Regions from separate parts of the Homo sapiens genome. Here region 2 is linked to region 1. Evidence: fine-mapped expression QTL. Tissue or cell type: transverse colon. Region 1 holds a variant in brackets; the other region holds the start of a gene. All regions are shown on one strand. Distances are between the middles of the regions.

Region 1 (10,461 bases):
TTGACGTCTCTAGGGCCGAGAGTGTTTTGCTCAGCCCCCCACAGTGAGCTCTGAGAGCCGCTCCTGCACAGACGAGAGGGAACGGGAGACCTGCATGCAGGGGAGCCGGGTCTGGACGGGGTCCCAATGGGAGGGCCAGGTCTGGGGGTGAGAGGCCAACCATGTGTCCTGCAGGACCGTGCAGCGGGCAAATGGGGTGAGATGTTGGAGGAGCTGGCTCTGTTCCCTTCACCCCGGTGGGAGGCGAAACCCCAAGTGGTCTGTAGTGTCTGGATTTACTGTGCCTGCTGTGCCTTCGGACTTCCTTGTGTGTCTAGGGGCTTCCTGTCTGATTTGAACCTGTCTAGTTCCTCTGAAGAGGATGAGGGAGCAGCGCCTCATTGCCTGGGCTCTGGGCAGGTCTGGGAGCCAGGCCGTTTGCAGGATGGCCCGCGATGGTGCAGCACTTTGTGCAGACAGATTTTGTGGAATTGCCGATTTGGGTTTCTTCTTTTCTTCTCCTCCTTTTTAATAATACAGTAATTACTCTGGGCTACAAAGGAAGTAGGCGAGGGTTTTTTTAATTGAAAGTTCCTGTTGCTCATCCCAAGCTTAGGGGAAGCCAGTATGCCAGCCATTAATTTGGGGATTGGGGTAGTCCTGTTGGTGTGCCAGGCACGGTTGGGAGGGGGGGCACTGTGTCTTTTGGAACTGGTGGGGGTTACCGCGCGCCCGAGTGGCAGACTCTAGCGCCCCAGCAGATGCGTCCGCAGAGCCACTGGGACGGACGGAAGCTGAGCTTAGGGACAGCCGGAGTTGCTTGCCCTGGGGCATCTGGAGAGGGGGATCCTGTTGAGCGTTTGATGTTGCCTCCTTTCTGCACCCCCCACCGAGCTGCCCCAGGCCCCCAGGGGCTCATGGTCCGTCAAGGCCTTGACCGAGGCCTGGCGGAGGGCGGGTGGTGGATGGAGGCAGCGCTGTGGGTGCTGTTGGGGCCGAGTGCCGGGCACAGCCTGGCAGGGGCTGCGGGCCTCGGGTGGCAGTGGGCAGGCCAGCATGTGGGGCTGGCTGACTTTCTCTGAACCCAGAGGGGACACAGGGCCCATGTGAAGGAGGCCTGGCCCGAGTCCTGGTTAGGGTTGCGGTGGTGGCGGGCAGCTGTGGGCTTCGTCCTCAGGTCAGCCTCAAGTCCTGTGTCCAGCTAGGGCTCGGTGGCCGTGCGCGTGTTGGGTCGAGCTCTGGTGTCAGGCGTGCCGGGTCCGCCTCCCCCATCCCGCGGATCTGCAGATCTGCAAATGCTCCGCCGGCAGCCACACGAGAGAACCTGTTGGTTGGCGGCCTCTGTGCAAGGCCGTCTGAGTGAGGCCTGCAGTCTGGAGGCTCCCTAGGTCGGGAGGCTCCGCGTCTGCTTCTTCCTCATTCTGGAGTTCTCGTGGGGCCCGTGCTGTGGGGCTTCCTGGGAAGTGGGTGGAGCGCCCATTTTACAGATGAGGAAGTCGAGGCCTACCTGGCCTGCTTGGGTAGAGGAGAAGGTGGTGTTTCCCGAGGGCTGACTCCCACACCTGTGCTTCTCTGGTCACCCGCCGTGCCAGTGGGAGCAGTGACAGCGAGGGGTGGTGGCCCTGCGGCCAGGGGACGGGCCTCACCGCCTTCCCCATCCTCTCTGCTGGCTCTGTCCAGAGGGCTGTGCCGCCCTGTGACTGGCACGTGGGTGCAGCCGTCTGCTGGGTGGGTCTGTCCGGGAGCTTGACTGGCCTGGCTGGGTGGGGGGGGGTACCCCTTTGTGCTACCTCAGCGAGGGCTCAAAGTGAGGGTCTGGGACCACCAGAACGGTGTATTCAATGCACTGCGGGCAGCCCTGCAGCGGGCAGGGATTGAGTGAGGGGTGGGGCCTGCCTGGCTCCTGGCAAGCACCCGTCTGGCGGGCGGGGCCCAGTGAGCCTCCTCCCTTTGCCGGGTCCTCCTGTAGTGGGGCAGGAACCTCTAGCATCCCACCCTTGCTGCCCTTTTTCTGCCCCGCTCACCACCCACATCAACTTGTCACCAGCAAGGGCATGGGACAAAGCAGGACATGCCCCGGGTGGCCAGCGTGAGCTAGCTGTGCCCAGGAGCATTGCCCATGCTGTCCCCCAGGCACTGTCCTGAAGCCCTGCTGGGTTCTGAGTCCTCCAGGCTCCGCGGCCCCTTCTCGCCCTGCCCAGAGTCTCTGGCCACCACCGCTGCTTGGGGCCCTGCACCAGCCTGTGCGCCCGCAAGGTTGCCAGGGCCCCTCTGCAGGTGCAGCGTGAGCTGTGTCCTGGGCCCACAGGGGAGCCGCTTCTCAGACCCCCGGGCTGGCCCCAGGCTCCCCCGGCAGCACTCAGGCGGCCCTGGCCCCCGGTGCGGCTGACTGTTCGGGGCACGCGTCTGAGGTGTGGGGATCATCTCCCCCTTGCTCAGAGCCCCCAACGTGTCCCCTGCACAGGGAATCGGGGCAGCCCCCTGCCAGCCCTGCCCAGGGATCCCTCCTGTCACCCTCAGGCGTGCTCCTGGGTGGCCCAGCGGCCTCCCTGCACCGTGAGGCCCGAGACAGTTTCGCGTGACATCATGTTGAAAACAGCCAGCTCTGGCCGGGCGCGGGGGCTCCCACCTGTCATCCCAGCACTTTGGGAGGCCGAGGTGGGCGGATCACCTGAGGTCAGGAGTTCAAGACTAGTCTGGCCAACATGGCAAAACCCCATCTCCACTAAAAATACAAAAATTAGCCGGGCGTGGTGGCGTGCGCCCATAATCCCAGCTACTCGAGAGGCTGAGGCAGGAGAATCACTTGAACCCGGGAGGTGGAGGTTTTAGTGAGCCAGGATCGCGCCACTGCACTCCAGCCTGGGCAACAGAGCGAGACTCCGTCTCAAAAAAAAAAAAAAAAAAAGCTGGTTCTCCCTTGATGCGCATCTGCTGAACTTCTGGGGCACGCTGGGGTAGAGCAGTGGGTCCCTCCCTGGAGAGGCCATGGGGTGAGGACCGAAGCTGTGGGTGCCAAGTGGGGCAGGCAGCCCAGTGGAGTGGGGCAAGAGACTCTGGTCTGGCCGGCCTGACCCGTGGGGTATGACTCTTGTTACGGCAGATTCCATCTAGGAGCGGAGGCCACGCGTATGTTCCCGGGAGAGGTGGGAAGTGCATCCCGTGGCCTATCCCGGGGAGGTCACTCCCATTCCATACCTGCAGGGGGAGCTAGCTGCCTCACGTCTGTGTCTCAGGCCGCGCAGAGGAGGGGGCGCAGGTGAGGGCAGCGGGAAGAAAGACTGCAAGAGGCTCGGGGGTCACGGGCCAGGGCTGGCCCATCACTATTTATTCGTTTATTTATTTATTTATTTATTTTTTATTTATTTATTTTTTTTAAGATGGAGTCTTGCACTGTTGCCCAGGCTGGAGTGCAGTGGCCCGATCTCAGCTCACTGCAAGCTCCGCCTCTTGGGTTCACGCCATTCTCCTGCCTCAGCTTCCCGAGTAGCTGGGACTACAGGCGACCGCCACCACGCCTGGCTAGTTTTTTGTACTTTTAGTAGAGACGGGGTTTCACCGTGTTAGCCAGGATGGTCTCGATCTCCTGACCTCGTGATCTGCCCGCCTCGGCCTCCCAAAGTGCTGGGATTACAGGCGTGAGCCACCGCGCCCGGCTATTTATTTATTTATTTATTATTATTATTATTATTTTCTTTGAGATGGAGTCTCGCTCTGTTGCCCAGGCTAGAGTGCAGTGGCGCAATCTTGGCTCACTGCAAGCTCCGCCTCCCGGGTTCACGCCATTCTCCTGCCTCAGCCTCTCCAGCAGCTGGGACTACAGGTACATGCCATCACGCCTGGCTAATTTTTGTATTTTTAGTACAGACGGGGTTTCACTGTGTTAGCCAGGATGGTCTCCATCTCCTGACCTTGTGATCTGCCCGCCTCGGCCTCTCAAAGTGCTGGGATTACAGGCATGAGCCACTGTGCCCGGCCTATTCATTTATTTATTTAGAGACAGAGTCTCGCTCTGTTGTCCATGTTGGCCAAGCTGGTCTTGAACTCCTGACCTCAGGTGATCCACCTGCTTCAGCCTCCCTCATAGCTGGGATTACAGGCGTGAGCCACCGTGCCCGGCCCTATCGCTATTTAAAAGGCAGAGAAAATCTTAGAGGTTTTTTTATTGTCACCAGCGGTGTTTCGTTGATGCGTAATTGCCTTTGGAGGCTTGAAAAAAGTTGTGCTTAAAGGTAATCCCTCAATTATCTGGAAACTTCCACCCTCCAGAGTGAGGCACCCCAAGTCCTGGTCTGGATTCGTGGACAGAGTCCCTGCCTGTGAGGCCTGATGGCCAGTCCTCTCGCCTTGGCCGTGGTGCTTCAGGCCCTGTTGCAGGTGGGACCCGCCCTCCTTAGGGACCTTGTTTCCCAGGTGATGCTCATGTAATCTGCGGTGACCTCTGCCCCTTCCCATCTGACCTCTGTCCCCAGGAAAGATGGCAGGCGTGCGAGGGCTCATCCTGTCCGCGGCAGTTGTGCCCCTCGGGCTTCTGCTCCAGTGGTCCTGGGGCAGGGCAGCTGGCGCTGATGCCCAGGCTCTGCCTGGGGACAGTTCCCAGGACGGGAGCCTGAGGGCAGCGCACGGGACCAGCGTGAGGACACGGACTGGCCCGTGTCTGCCTCTGACTTGCTGGGTGTGCCTTTGAGTTCCTCTGAGGGTGGGTGCGCCGAGGGGGATCCAGCTGGGCCCTGGCCACGTGCAGGCCAGCCAGAGCCCTGGAGCCTGCAGGTGGGCTGGGACAGGGCTTGCGACCGCAGGGGTGGTGTGCGTTTGCGCTGGCGTCTGCACAGGTGTGTGCGTGCTGTGCCATCACGCTGGTCAGGCCTGTACGCCGTGGAGAGGGGCGCTGTGTGGGGCTCGCTGCCTGAGCCCTGGGTGGACCGTGGCTGCCCCATGAGTTGTCGGGGACCTCCGCTGCCCCTTGGACCTCGCCCGCGGCCCTGGGCAATGGGTGTGGTGACGTCCTGGGGCCCCCATGAGTCAGCTCGTCCTCGTGCCCGGGCACTGGCCTCTCCTTCCTGTGGGCGCACAGCCCCGGTTCCTCTGAAAGCTTCGTGGGCCGGGACCCGGGATGAGCTGGTTAAACCCTGGCCCTGTGAGCAGGAGGTGTGGCTTCGGGGGGCGGCCCCGCCCTGGGCTCAGACTTGATCCTGCACCGGAGGGAGCCATTCTGGAAGGCCGCTGCCCCGGGCCCTGTCCCTCCCCCTCTCATCCCCAGGGTGCTGGCCAGAGCCGGGCTCACAGCGTTTCTTAAAATTAACGATCCCGGCCGGGCGTGGTGGCTCACGCCTGTAATCCCAGCACTTTGGGAGGCCGAGGCGGGTGGATCACGAGGTCAGGAGATCGAGACCATCCTGGCTAACACAGTGAAACCCCGTCTCTACTAAAAAGACAAAAAATTAGCCGGGCGCGGTGGCAGGCGCCTGTACTCCCAGCTACTCGGGAGGCTGAGGGAGGAGAATGGCATGAACCCGGGAGGCGAAGCTTACAGTGAGCTGAGAC[C/T]GCGCCATTGCACTCCATGTGGGCGACAGAGTGAGACTCCGTCTCAAAAAAAAAAAAAAAAAACGCAAAAAAAAAAAAGATCCCGTCACACTGACCCAGCTCACTGTTCTCTTACCAGCCTTATTTCGGTGTGGTCCTTAGAGCATGAGCCACTTTTTTTTGCTGGGAACATAATCCACGTTTGGTAAAATTCGGCAACGTGTGCACGCAAGTGGTTTTTGTACAGCTGACCCTTGAGCAGGGTGGGGTTTAGGGCAGCAGCCCCTCATGTAGCAAAATACCCTCGTATAGCTTTCGAGTCCTCCAGATGCCGCTGCCGACAGCCTGCTGGTGACCAGAGGCCTCGGGAGGACACGTGGTCCGCGCACACATACCTCGTGTGTTGTGTTAGGTGCTGCGTTCTCACAGTGAGGGAAGCTGGAGACCAGAACATGTGGAGAAAAGCAGAAGGAAGAGAAACCCTGTTTGCTCTTCACGCAGTGGAAGTAATGCTCATGGAAGCCTCTGTCCTCGTCGTGTTCACGTTGAGGGCTGAGGAAGGGAGGGTGGGTCTCGCTGTCTCGGGTGGCAGAGCGGGAAGGAGCCAGGAGAGGCTGGCGCCCTCAGGGCAACCTTTATTGAAAAAATCCACGTCAGAGTGGACCTGTCAGTTCAAACCTGCCGTGGTCAAGGCTCCTCTGTGAGTGCAGCCACCACCTGTAATTCCAGAGTGTTCTCATCACCTGCAAAGGGAGCCCTGGCCCCATCAGCAGCCAGCCTTCCACACCATCCTTTCCAGAACCTTCCCACCTTCCCAAATTGAGACGCTGTCTTCGTGAAACGTTCACTCCCGTGCCCTCTCCAGCCCCTGGCACCCCCATCCTACTTTCTGGCTCTGTGACTCTGAGGGCTCCAGGGACCTCCTAGGGGTGGAATCACACGGGATGAGGCCTGGTGTGTTTGGCGTCTCTCACTGAGTGTGACACCCTCGGTGCATCCGCGCCATGGCCCGCGTCCGAGTCTCGCTCCTGTTCGTGGCTGAGTCGTGTTCCGGCGTGTGGGTGGCCACGTGTTTATTTCTGTGATAGATGTTTGCATGGCATCCGCGTGTGGCTGCTGCGAGCACCCGTGTCCGGTTCCCGTGTGGCTGCGTGATTCTTCTGTCAGGTGGACTTCTAGCGGTGGAACCGCTGGTCACAGGGCCACTCCCGGTTGGACCATTTGAGGAGCCGCAGACGGCCATCCATACCTGCACTGTTTGGGTCCCCTGCCGGGTTTTGGGGACTGGATCTCTGCACAGCGACGACCACTCCCCTCTTCCGGTGACTTGGTTTCTCCTGTCCTTCGGCCCGATGCTTCTCTGGCCTGCAGGGCATCAGGGACCCTGCTGTCCTGATCCCCATGCCGTCTAGAAAGCCAGGGGTCCTGCATGTGCCCGGTGTCCCCACTGCCTTGTCAGGCACAGGGCCAGATCCTGCACCCTGTGACGAGCACGGCCAGTGGGACAGACAGATGGATGTGCTGCCCGTGACCTTCGCCACAGCGAGTTCAGAGGCCGGAGGCATCCAGTGTCCACAGAGTGACCGGTAGGCCCCAGCCCCACAGGATCATCGAGGTGGCCCTGGCCTTTCGAGGCCACAAAAATCAACGTTTATTTTTATTTATTTTATTTATTTATATATTTATTTATATATTTATTTATGAGACGGAGTCTCGCTCTGTCCCCCAGGCTGGAGTGTGGTGGCGTGAGCTCTGCTCACTGCAAGCTCTGCCTCCCGGGTTCACACCATTCTCCTGCCTCAGCCTCCCGAGTAGCTGGGACTACAGGCACCCGCCACCACACCCAGCTAATTGTTTGTATTTTTAGTAGAGACGGGGTTTCACTGTGTTTGCCAGGATGGTCTTGATCTCCAGACCTCGTGATCCGCCCTCCTCGGCCTCCCAAAGTGCTGGGATTACAGGCGTGAGCCACCGCGCCTGGCCATCAATGTTTATTTTTAAGTAGCAAAAGAGAACTCAGCAGTGTTGGAGAACTTGAACATTACAGCAACATCTGAAGAAGATGTTCTTTCACAAACCTCAGATTCCAGGAGATGAGCACCGTCCGCTTTCCAGAGAAAATTGTCTGAGGCCTCTGGGAGACAGGAGGGGGTGCACTTAGAAACAGCCAAGGCCTCCTTCCATGTTGGGACGGACGGGCCTTCCTGGGCTGGCCCGGCCTAAATCTGCTGCCGCCCACCGAACACCAAGGCACCTTCTCGTGCCCCAGAGGCCACCAGCACCCGTCCCCCTGCCTCCCTCCAGCCAGTGTCAGGTGGGGACCTGGCCGCTGGAAGGGAGGTGTCACCTGCTCTGGGGCATCCAGGAGGGAGGGGCTGCGGGAGTTTTGCTGGAGACCCTCCAGGTGGGGGTTATGGGGTATCATGGCGGAGCGTGTTGGGAAGTTTTCGGTGAGCTGGGCGTTTATTCGCCTTGGTGCCCCCCTAGATCCCTGGGTGATCCCCGTGCCCAGTTTTCAGGGGAGACCATGGGGGTCAGAGAGCTGGCCAGGCGGGTGGTCTGTGTCTGTCCCCTGCTGTTGAAATGAGGGGAGGTGAGAGGAGACGCCGTGTGCCTGGGGAGGCAACACTTTCTACCGTTTGCTGGTTTATAAAAATCAAAGATGGCCAGGCACGGTGGCTCACGCCTGTAATCCCAGCACTTTGGGAGGCCGAGACGGGCAGATCACGAGGTCAGGAGATTGAGACCATCCTGGCTCTACTAAAATACCCTGTCTCTACTAAAAAAAATACAAAAAATTAGCCGGGCGTGGTGGCGGGCGCCTGTAGTCCCAGCTACTCGGGAGGCTGAGGCAGGAGAATGGCGTGAACCCGGGAGGCGGAGCTTGCAGTGAGCCGAGATCGCACCACTGCACTCCAGCCTGGGCGACAGAGTGAGACTCCGTCTCAAAAAAAAAATAAAAAAAATCAAAGATGGGGGCCTGCTGGGACCGTTTGATTTCTTCCCATTCAGACCCTGCCAGATCCTGAGGCTGGCCCAGCTGCCTGTGTCCTCTGGGGCTCCCTGAGGAGGCAGCACCAGCTGTGGTGTGCATGACGGACAGGGGTCCCAGTTGGGGGGTGCAGCCTCCCGATGGGCCAGGATGGGGGATGCTTGGGTGCCCTCAGGATGTGCAGGCTGGGCGGGAGGAAGCGGTGAGAGTCCACCCCTCCCCACCTTCCTCTTCTCTGCTGTTTTTTTTTGGAGACAGAGTCTCACTGTGTCGCCCAGGCTGGAGTGCAGTGGTGTGATCTCCGTTCACTGCACGCTCCGCCTCCCGGGTTCACACCATTCTCTTGCCTCAGCCTCCCGAGCAGCTGGGACCACAGGCGCCCGCCACCACAGCTGGCTAATTTTTTGTATTTTTAGTAGAGACGGGGTTTCACCGTGTTAGCGAAGATGGTCTCGATCTCCTGACCTCGTGATCCACCCGCCTCGGCCTTCCAAAGTGCTGGGATTACAGGCGAGAGCCACCGGGCCCGGCCATTCTCTGCTGTTTTCTGACTCAACATCATGAAACAGGACCTTAAGCTGAGAAGTGGTGAGATTGGGGCCATCCTCATTTCCACATAAGGCCGTGTTCCTGTTTACTGGGGGCTAGGACTTGGCATGTCTTTTTCGGGGATAGCCCAACCCTTCTGTGTGAAAGGGGTCGTGATGGTCACTGCAGGACAGCAAGCACACCTTGGCCCCTCAGTGGGCAGTGGGTGCAGGGCTGGACGAGGGCCCAGGGGGCAGAAGCTAGTGCGCCGATAGCGTGTGTCATCTGCGGCCTGTGAGCACTGATGATGCCCGAGTGGCGGAGGGCGGGATGCTTCCACGTGCTCAACTTTTTTTTTTTTTCTTGAGACAGAGTCTTGCTCTGTCGCTCAGGCTGGAGTGCAGTGGTGCCATCTTGGCTTACTGCAGCCTCCACTTCCCGGGTTCAAGTGATTCTCCTGCCTCAGCCTCCCGAGTAGCTGGGATTACAGGCGTCCGCCACCATGCCCGGATAATTTTTGTATTTTTAGAAGAGACCGGGGTTACACCATGTTGTCCAGGATGGTCTCAAACTCCTGACCTCAAGTGATCTTCCCACCTCGGCCTCCCAAAGTGTACGTATCTTTTTAGTAACGATATATTTGACGATGATTAAAAAAACCCGATCCTTGAAGGCCCTTGATAGATGCTGAGGTGAGTACAGGCCTGACTCTGAGGGTCATGCGCCTAGCAGGCGTCGCCCGGTGCACAGGGCCAGGAGCTGAGTCGTGCGGGACTGGATGGAGGCCAGGGGATATAGAAGACCTGGGCAGCTCCCCAGGACCAAGCCCTCTCGCCTAGGGCTCCCCGGGGAGTTAGGCCGAACCCTGCTGTGCCCTTCACTCTGCAGCCCTCGTGGGGATCATCACAGAGGCAGGAGCTGGCAACCGAGGTGACTGCCTTCGAGTGGAGGGAAACCGGGGCGGGATGTCGCCCGGCGGCTCCCACACGATGAGGGGAAAAGGCACTCCAGTCTGGGTGGCAGAGCGAGACTCCGTCTGAAAAAAAAAACAAAGGAAATGTAGAAACGCAGCCCACCCAGGTTTTCCACGGCCGTTCATGGTTACGCTTCTGGAAGGACCCGTGTCCTCTCAGATGTAGCAGGATTCCGATGGGAGCCACCCCGGGTCCCACTCGCCCCCGGGACCTGCCGTGGGAGCTTTCTTTCCTGGTGGGGTGCCTGACTCTGCCTGCACGTTCCCCCCGCTGTCTGTGGCACCACTTGGGACCGGGGACCCCTGCCCCCCTGGCAAGACCAGGTCAGCTCTGCCCCCGGGCCACGGAGCAGGAAGCAGAGCTGAGGCTGCTGAGGTGGCGCAGGGTTGCTGTGGGGGCCTGTGCGCCATGGGGGCCTGGGTGGGGGTGTTCTCACTTCCCCCGGAGTCTGGAAGGCCGTCTTTG
Region 2 (9,090 bases), 66 kb after region 1:
GTTCACCATCACCCTGGGCAACATGACGGAAATACTGTCTCTACTAAAAATACAAAAATTAGCTGGGCGTGGTGGCGCACACCTGTAATCCCAGCTACTCAGAAGGCTGAGACAGGAGAATTGCTTGAGCCAGGGAGCTGAAGGCTGCAGCATGCGGAGATCACGCCACTGTACCCCAGCCTGGGCAATAGAGCAAGATTCTGTCTCAAAAAAACAAAAAAGGAGGGGAGGCCAGGTGCGGTGGCTCACGCCTGTAATCCCAGCACTTTGGGAGGCCGAGGTGGGCGGATCACCTGAGGTCGGGAGTTTGAGACTAGCCCGGCTAACATGGTGAAACCCCGTCTCTACTAAAAAATACAATTAGCCAAGTGTGGTGGCGGGTGCCTGTAGTCCCAGCTACTCGGGAGGCTGAGGCAGGAGAATGGCATGAACCTGGGAGGCGGAGCTTGCAGTGAGCGGAGATCGCGCCACTGGACTCCAGCCTGGGCAACAGAGCGAGACTCCGTCTCAAAAAAAAGAAAAAGGTATTTTAGATACTAACTTCATGGGACCAGCCAATGTGCACATCTACAAAAGTGCAACCCTGGAGATCTTCAGTTCTCCCTTCAAGCCCCATGAGAGAATCAGATGTTTAATTCCCACAGATCATTCAATGCACAATCACTGCGTGCCTACTGTGTGCCAGGCTCCAGCGCGCTGAGATGGACGGGTGCCCATCCAGGACCGGGGAACAGCCCAGAAGCCGCGTGCAACCCCTGGCCTCCTCCCCAGCACAAACGCCGACCCCTGCGCGACGGTCCAGACACTGGGGCCACCACCAAGGCCTGCTCCCAGCCTCCTCTCTGCCATGTCTCAGCTCACCCTGCACCCCCGCCAGGGACCAGGCCCAAGCCCAGGCCACTTGCTCTCCTCACAGCTGGCAAGGCCCGGCCCCTCTCTGCTCATCGGTGAACTCCAGACTTTATCCCAGCACCCCCAGTTCGTCCCGACATCCCCCCACCTTTTTTTTTTTTTTGAGACGGAGTCTCGCCCTGTCACCCAGGCTGGAGTGCAGTGGCGCAATCTTGGCTCACTGCAATTTCTGCCTTCCGGATTCAAGCCATCCTCCTGCCTCAGACTCTGAGTAGCTGGGATTACAGGTGCGTGCCACCGCGCCCAGCTTATTTGTGTATTTTTAGTAGAGACGGGGTTTTGCCACGATGGCCAGGCTGGTCTCAAACCCCTGACCTCAGATGTCTGCCCATCTCGGCCTCCCGAAGTGCTGGGATGATAGGCGTGAGCCACTGCGCCCGGCCTCAGCTGCTGTTTTCTTTCTCTCTGCTGTGTGGCCTGTGGCTGTCAGCAACCCATCGGGTCCGTTTGTTCCCACAGCCCCAGGACAGATGTGTCTGAGTGACCTTGTTTCAATCATGGAAACTGAGGCACAGAGCACTTGGGACACACTGCTCTGCGGACCTCTCAGCCCCAGGTCCCGCCAACACATCCAAGCCAGTACTTGTCCCTCCTGAGCCTGTCCTGGCTTGTGATGCTCCAGCCAGAAGTCTGGGGACCCCCACCACAGCCCCCCACGCCCTCACCTGCCAAGCTGCCTCCTCTCCTGGCCACAGGAACTCGCTTCCTCCAAAGAGGACCTGCATCCTCTACCCCTCATTTCTGCCGTCCCCACCGAGCCCGCTGCTGTCTCCTGCCTGGAGTCTGCAGCTGCTACTCCCCAGCCTCGCTCCTGGGCCCATCCACGGCGCGTTCCACCCTCAATGCGGATCTGGTCACACTGGGCCACAGGGCCTCCCTCACTCCTCCTGCTCCGGCCTTGCCATGGCTCCCACCTGCCCAGCCCCTCTGGGCTCTGGGCCTTCCATCCCTGAGCCTGGGGCACTGCACTCTCCATCAACATCACTTGCTCAGGGGGTCGTTCTGGACCAGGTCAGTGCCCCCTCTCCATTTTCAACCCTCCTGAAATGCTAAGGAAACACAGATGACCTTTCAACAAGGCAGGCTTCAACTGCACAGGTCCACTCATATGTGAATTTTTTCAATAAAGGCTGCCCCAACGGTGCCGGCCTCTCCTGCCTCCCCTTCCACCTCTGCCACCCCGGAGACAGACCCACCCTCCTGCTCCTGCTCCTCAGCCCTCAATATGAACACAAGGACACAGGCCTTCATCGTGGCCACCTCCACTGTGTGAACAGCAAACAGGATTTCTCCTTTTATTTTTTTTCCTTTTTTTTTTGAGACAGAGTCTTGCTCTGTCGCCCAGGCTGGAGTGCAGTAGCGCAACCTCGGCTCACTGCAACCTCCGCCTCCCGGGTTCAAGTGATTCTCCTGCCTCAGCCTCCCAAGTAGCTGGGACTACAGTTGTGCACCACCACACCCGGCTAATTTTTTGTATTTTTAGTAGAGACGGTGTTTCACCACGTTGGCCAGGATGGTCTCAAACTCCTGACCTCATGATTCGCCCGCCTCGGCCTCCCAAAGTGCTGGGATTACAGGCGTGAGCCACCGCGCCCAGCCTGTCCTTTATTTTTTTTGAGATGGTGTGTCACTGTGTCGCCTGGGCTGGAGTGCAATGGCGCAATCTCGGTTCCCTGCAACCTCCACCTCCTGGGTTCACGAGATTCTCCTGCCTCAGCCTCCTGAGTAGCTGGGATTACAGGTGTGCGCCACCACGCCCGGCTAATTTTTGTATTTTTGTAGAGACAGGGTTTCACCGTGTTGACCAGGCTGGTCTCGATCTCCCGACCTCGTGATCTGCCCGCCTCGGCCTCCCAAAGTGCTGGGATTCCAGGCGTGCGCCCCCGCACCCGGCCCCTTAGACTTTTCTGAATGTATTTTCTGTTCTCCAGCCTGTTATTGTGAGAACAGGAGGCTGGTGTGCATTGACCAAGTGTCCTCACAAGGCCTCCGGTCAGCGAGAAGCCATTCCTAGTTAAGTTCGTGGGAGTCAAAAGTTGTACTTGGATTTGAGCTGAGTGGGGGTCCACGCCCCTAACCCCGCATGTCGAGGGTCCGCTGTCCCAGGCCCGCCCACCTTACCTTGCTGCTATCTCCCGCTGGGCCTCATTGCCCTCTCCTGAGCCCCCCGGGGGCAGACCCCTCACCTACTTTTCTCCAAGGGGTCCTTGTCCTGCCTCCATCTTCCCCACTTTGCAACCGAGCCAGCGGTCCCTCAAGTGCAATCGCATACATGTCCCAAGGTCAGCCGGTGCCCGGGGCGCCCCACCTCCCCCCTCAAACAGAAAGCCTGGGATTCTCCAGCTGCACCTGCTGCTGGGTGAGTTCCAGCTGCATCCAACCTACCCCCTCCCCAAAGAGCACAAAGACCACCCAGGTGGAGGGAGCAAACCCACCGCCCCTCACTCCAAGCTAGGAGAGGCCCAGCAGCTAAGGACGACAGAGACAGGGACGGCGACACGGACGGCACAAGCCGTAGGAGGCCCCGGAACCCTCCAGGGGCAGGAACCTCTGCTAAGTACCGCCCAGGGCAGGACCCCACGAAAGGAGACCCAGCTGCCCATAAACACCCAGGAAGAAGCCAGAACACGTTAACAAAAGCACCCGAAGGTCAGAAGGGAGGGCAGGACCCTCCCCCTCCAGTGCCCGCAGCAAGAAAACCCAGCCCCTGCCCCCGACCAATGAGGGGCAGGGTAAGAGGGACCGGGGAGTGGAGGGAACCTGGGGCCTGGGGCCGGTACCCCGCACACTGGCAAAGACAGATACTGGGCCAAACCCACTTCTTTCCCAGAAAGGAGGGCTGGGGGCTGGGGAGGGAGGGACCCCGGAGCTGGGGGTCTCTGGGTTGGAAGGGCCCGGAGATGGGAGTCTGGGCAGGGGTCTAGGGTGGTGGCCTGGTGGCAGGGGATCATAGGATGGGGTGCAGGGGGTAGCAGGGCCCAGGGGAGACAACCTTCTGCAGAGTCCAGGGTCCAGAGCCTGGCAGTGGCGGAGCTGGAGGTGGGTGGTCACTGAAGTGGGAGGTGGCAGGGCCCAGGGGTCTCTGGCTGAGGTGGGGGTCCGGGGCTGGAGGGGCTGTGGATGGTAGTCTATGATCTGGACTGCAGGGCGGGCAGGGGGTATCCCTGGAGGGGAGCAGCATGGTTTGAAGGTCTCTGATCCAGATCATGTGCTGAGCCTGGGGGTCTCCGGTGGGGGTCACTGGGTCTGGAGGCAGCAGGGAGGACGCAGGGAGCAAGGCCTAGGGGTCTTGGCGCACAGGGGTGCGGGTGGGAGTGGCAGGGTCCCTGGATGGTGGGGGAAGAGGGAGGGGTCTTGTGGTCATGGGTGGGGGTGGAGGAAATAGCACGACCCCTGAAGGGAGGGGTCCTGGAGTTCAGGAGTCATAGGTTGGGGGTTACGGACTGAGGTGGTGAGGACTGGGGACGGGGGGTCTCAGGTGAGAGCGGAGAAGTCTCTCCATCCTGGGATGCAGGGGTGACACACTTGAGTGTAGTGGGGTCCCAGGGGGCCCCGGGAGTAGAGAGTGGAAGGGCAGTGGGCAGGGGTGAAGGACCTGGGGAAGGAGGGGTCCTGGAGAGTCCCTGGGTACAGGGACGGAGGGGTCACCAGTAGGGGTCCCAGGGGGAGAGGGGCGGCAGGCAAGGGTGCAGGGCCTGGGGATGGAGGGGTCCTGAGGATCCCCGGGTATAGGGATGGAGGGGTGTGGCATGTGGGGTCATGGGTCCTAGAAACAGTGGGTTGGGGTCCTGGGAATGGAGGAGCAGATAGGGGTACACGTCCCAGGGTTGGAGGGTCACAGGAGTCCCAGGGGTGGTGGGTGGGGGTGCAGGGCCAGGGCATGGAGGGGACCCAGGGATGCAGGCCAGGTGGGGTCCAGGGATGGAGGGGCCTGGGGTGTAGGCAGGGGTTCCAGCCGGAGGTGGAGGGGCCCAGGGATCTGGGGGCAGAGGTGTCTGGGGACCTGGGGTGCAGGGAGGGGTGAGGTCCAGGGATGGAGCGTCCTGGGGATGGAAGAATGGAGGGTCCTAGGGTGCAGGCGGGGGGTGGAGGGCCCTGAGGATGGGGTATTCAGGGTTCTGGGGTGCGGGCTGGGTGGGGTTTGAGGATGGAGGGGCCCAGGGGCTCCAAGTGCAGGCCGAGTTGGAGGGTCCCAGGAACGGAGGGTACCGGAGTGCAGGCTGGGTGGGTCCAGGGACGGAGGAGAGCAGGGGTCCCAGGGGTACAGGGCCTGGGATCCCGGGGAACAGGCTGGGGGCGCAAGCCAGAGGTGGAGGATCCAGGGGGGCCTGGGGATGGAGGGGTGCAGAGGCCCAGAGTGCAGGCCTGGTGGGGTCTGGGGACAGAGAGGTGCAGAGGCAGGGACAGAGGGGTGCAGAGCCCAGGGAACTGGGTGGAGTCTAGGGATGGAAGGGTGCAGGCCCCGGGGTGCAGGCCGGGTCGGTTTCAGGACCGGAGGGGTGCAGGGGTCCCAGGGACAGAGGGGTGCAGGGCCTCAGGTGCAGGCCCCGGGGTGCAGGCCGAGTTGGGTTCGGAGCCTGAGGATGCAGGGGTGCAGGGGTCCCGGGGACAGAGGGGTGCAGGGCTCGGGGATGGAGGGGTGCGGGGGTCTCGGGGACAGAGGGGTGCAGGGCCTCAGGTGCAGGGCCCGGGCAGCAGGCTGGGTGGGTCGGGGCCAGGGCTGGCGGGGTCGGGGCGCCCACCTGTGCGCGGGGATGCGCTGCGAGCTGAGCCCCTTGCCCACCAGGAAGTGCACGTCGCACAGCACCTCGTTGTTGAAGAGGAAGGCGAAGCGCTCCTGCACGGTGGGCTTGCTGGCCTGCCAGTTGTACGCGGCCTCGCGCTGCAGCGCCGCCGCCCCCGGGCCCGCCGCCTCCTCCGCCCGCTCCGCGCCCGCGGCCTGCGCGTCTGTCCCGGGGCCCGGCGGGGCGGGCGGCGTCGGCCCAGGGGCGGCGGCGGCGGCGGCGGCGGCGGCGGCGGCGGCGGCCGCGTTGCCGGGGGCCGGGGTGGCGGCGGCGTTGGCGCTGGGCCCGGGACTGCCCCCCGTGCCCGGGCCGACCCCGACCCCCGGCGGGCACGACGCACGCCCGCCGCTCCCACCCGCCGCCATTTTGTGGCTGCGGCGTGGGCGGGGGAGGGGAGGAGGGAAGGAGGGAGGGGAGGAGGGAAGGAGGGAGGGGAAAGGAGGAGAGTAGGGGGAGGAGGGGGAGGAGGGAGGGGAGGGGAAAAGAGGAGGGAGGGGAAAGGAGGGGAGGAGGGAGGGGAGGGGAAGCGGGAAGGAGGGAGGGGAGGAGAGGGAGGGGAAAGGAGGGGGAAGGAGGGAGGGGAGGAGAGGGAGGGGAAAGGAGGGGGAAGGAGGGAGGGGAGGAGAGGGAGGGGAAAGGAGGGGGAAGGAGGGAGGGGAGGAGAGGGAGGGGAAAGGAGGGGGAAGGAGGGAGGGGAGGAGAGGGAGGGGAAAGGAGGGGAGGTGGGAGGGGAGGAGGGAGGGGAGAAGGGAGGTGAATGGGGGAGGCTGTTGCAGGGGAGGGGACGGGGAGGAGAGGGAAGAGTAGGAGGGGCCTGTAGAGGGGAGGAGCTGGTGGAAGACCTCTTGCTCCACTCCCTAAGCATCCTGACCTGAAGCCCAGACTCCAGACCGAGGTCCAGAATTTGGGGTCCAGGCACCAGGCCCCAGACTCCAGACCGGGAATCCTAAACCCTGGAGCACAGACCTCAGTCCGGGATCCCAGGCCTCAGACCTTGAATCCTAGATCCCAGACTCTGAACCCCAGACTTCAGACTCCGGATTCCAGATCCCATACCTCAGACCCGGAACCCCCAACCCAAAGACCAAGCGCAAACTCCAGACCCCAGACCCCGGACCCAGGTGGCGGGCCTGCTCCGTGGCGCAGGCTCCGCTGTACAGAGACATAGCCTGAGGCCGGGAAGCTGCGGATGAGCGAGCAGGATGCAGGCCACGTGCACTGACACTCAGCAGACGCCCAGCACCCTCTCCAGGCCAGGTGTGGGGGGTGGTCAGTGTGGACGGAGCTGGGACTCCCCCAAAACGCTTACTACATACATAATGTCAAGGTAGACAAATGCCACAAAGATTGAGGAACCAGGTCGGGCGCAGTGGCTCACGCCTGTAATCCCAGCACTTCAGGAGGCCAAGGCGGGGGGTGCATCACCTAAGGTCAAGAGTTGGAGACCAGCCTGGGCAACATGGCAAAACCCTGTCTCTACAAAAAATACAAAAATTAGCCAGGCGCGGTGGCTCACGTCTGTAATCCCAGCACTTTGGGAGGCCGAGGCGGGCGGATCACCAGGTCGGGAGATCGAGACCATCCTGGTGAAACCCCATCATGGTGAAACCCCATCTCTACTAAAAATACGAAAATTAGCCAGGCTTGGTGGCGGGTGCCTGTAATCCCAGCTACTCGGGAGGCTGAGGCAGGAGAATCACTTGAACCTGGGAGGCGGAGGTTGCAGTGAGCCGAGACCGCGCCATTGCACTCCAGCCTGAACAACAAGAACAAAACTCCGTCTCAAACAAACAAACAAACAAACAAAACAAAACAAAAAAAAAACTAGGCGTGGTGGTACGCACCTGTTGTCCCAGCTACTCAGAAGGCTGAGACGGAAGCATCACTTGAGCCTGGAAGGTTGAGCTTTTGATGAGCTATGACTCCACCACTGCCCTCCAGCCTGGGCAACAGAGCAAGATCCTGTCTCGAAAAAAAAAAAAAACAAAGAAGAAAAAGAAAATAGGGTATTAAAAAAACCCAAGTGATAATGCTATTTTCAGTTCTCCAGAGTGGGTGGTTGAGGTAGTTACAATTTTTTTTTCTTTTTTCTTTTTTCTTTTTAGAGTCTCCCTCTATTGCCCAGGCTGGGGTGCAGTGATGGCGATCTTGGCTCACTGCAATCTCAGCCTCCTGGTTCAAGCAATTCTCCCGCCTCAGCCTCCTGAGTAGCTGGGGTTACAGGTACCCGCCACCACGCCTGGCTAAGGCTAATTTTTTTTTGTTTGTTTGTTTTGTTTTTGAGACAGTCTCGTTCTGTCGCCCAGGCTGGAGTGCAGTGGCGCGATCTTGGCTCACTGTAAGCTCCGCCTCCCAGATTCACGCCATTCTCCTGCCTCAGCCTCCCGAGTAGCTGGAACTACAGGCGCCTGCCACCATGCCTGGCTAATTTTATATGTGTGTGTGTGTATGTATATACATATATATATATATATATATATTTTTTTTTTTTTTTTTTTTTTTTTTTGAGACAGTCTTGCTCTGTCGCCCAGGCTGGAGTGCAGTGGCACGATCTCAGCTCACCACAACCTCCGCCTCCCGGATTCAAGCGATTCTCCTGCCTCAGCCTCCTGAGTAGCTGGGATTACATGCACCACCACGCCCGGCTAATTTTGTATTTTTAGTAGAGACGGGGTTTCTCCATGTTGGTCAGGCTGGTCTCGAACTCCCGACCTCAGGTGATCCGCCTGCCTTGGCCTCCCCAAGTGCTGGGATTACAGGCGGGAGCCATCACAGCCGGCCTCTAAATGTCAACTTTCTTATCTCTCATCTCATACATTTGCAAAGTGACATCTTTCCAGCCAAATCCTAAAGAGGACATCTGTGCAGTCCCTTCTAGATGAAGGTGCAGAACAGGCATACCTGCCATGGTGACAGAAATTAACAAAATGGTAGGTTGTCTGAGGAAAGGGTGAACTTTACGGAATGCTGAGATGTTCACGATTTTTTTTTTTTTTTTTTTTTTTTTTTTTTTTGAGATGGAGTCTCGTTCTGCCACCCAGGCCAGAGTGCAGTGGTGCAATCTCGGCTCACTGTAAGCTCTGCCTTCCAGGTTCATGCCATTCTCCTGCCTCAGCCCCCCGAGTAGCTGGGACTACAGGCGCCTGCCACCATGCCCGGCTAATTTTTTTTTTTTTTTTGTATTTTTAGTAGAGTCGGGGTTTCATCGTGTTAGCCAGGATGGTCTCTATCTCCTGACCTCGTGATCCGCCCACCTCGGCCTCCTAAAGTGCTGGGATTACAGATGTGAGCCACCGCGCCTGGACTTTTTTTTTTTTAAAGAGCTGTAGGCCAGCCATGGTAGCTCACGCCTGTAATCCCAGCACTTTCGGAGGCCGAGGCAGGCAGATTACTT

What was found. PIP is the estimated chance that this variant, and not a neighbour inherited with it, causes the effect.
Region 2: BTBD2 starts here. The variant in region 1 is fine-mapped to the expression of BTBD2 in transverse colon (GTEx, PIP 0.99). The same link has a PIP of 0.9 or more in tibial nerve.

What each region holds. Positions count from the first base shown.
Region 1 is chr19:1,942,954-1,953,414 of GRCh38, forward strand. All of the region lies in intron 1 of CSNK1G2 (casein kinase 1 gamma 2), which reads left to right. It overlaps CSNK1G2-AS1 (CSNK1G2 antisense RNA 1), which reads right to left. Exons shown (of 3, transcript NR_033400.1): 2 at 10,433-10,461; 3 at 9,574-10,058. Among named protein-coding and RNA genes, the nearest start is that of CSNK1G2-AS1, 6.4 kb to the right of the region's middle. RefSeq lists enhancers at 97-206, 4,046-4,766. The variant C/T (reference allele first, on the strand shown) is at 5,524.
Region 2 is chr19:2,009,643-2,018,732 of GRCh38, forward strand. It overlaps BTBD2 (BTB domain containing 2), which reads right to left and starts at 6,072. Exons shown (of 9, transcript NM_017797.4): 1 at 5,655-6,072. The coding sequence starts at 6,061. LOC107985278 (a long non-coding RNA gene) reads right to left here. Exons shown (of 4, transcript XR_001753845.2): 3 at 7,541-7,658; 4 at 6,703-7,452. RefSeq lists silencers at 2,662-2,853, 5,669-5,718, 5,729-5,878.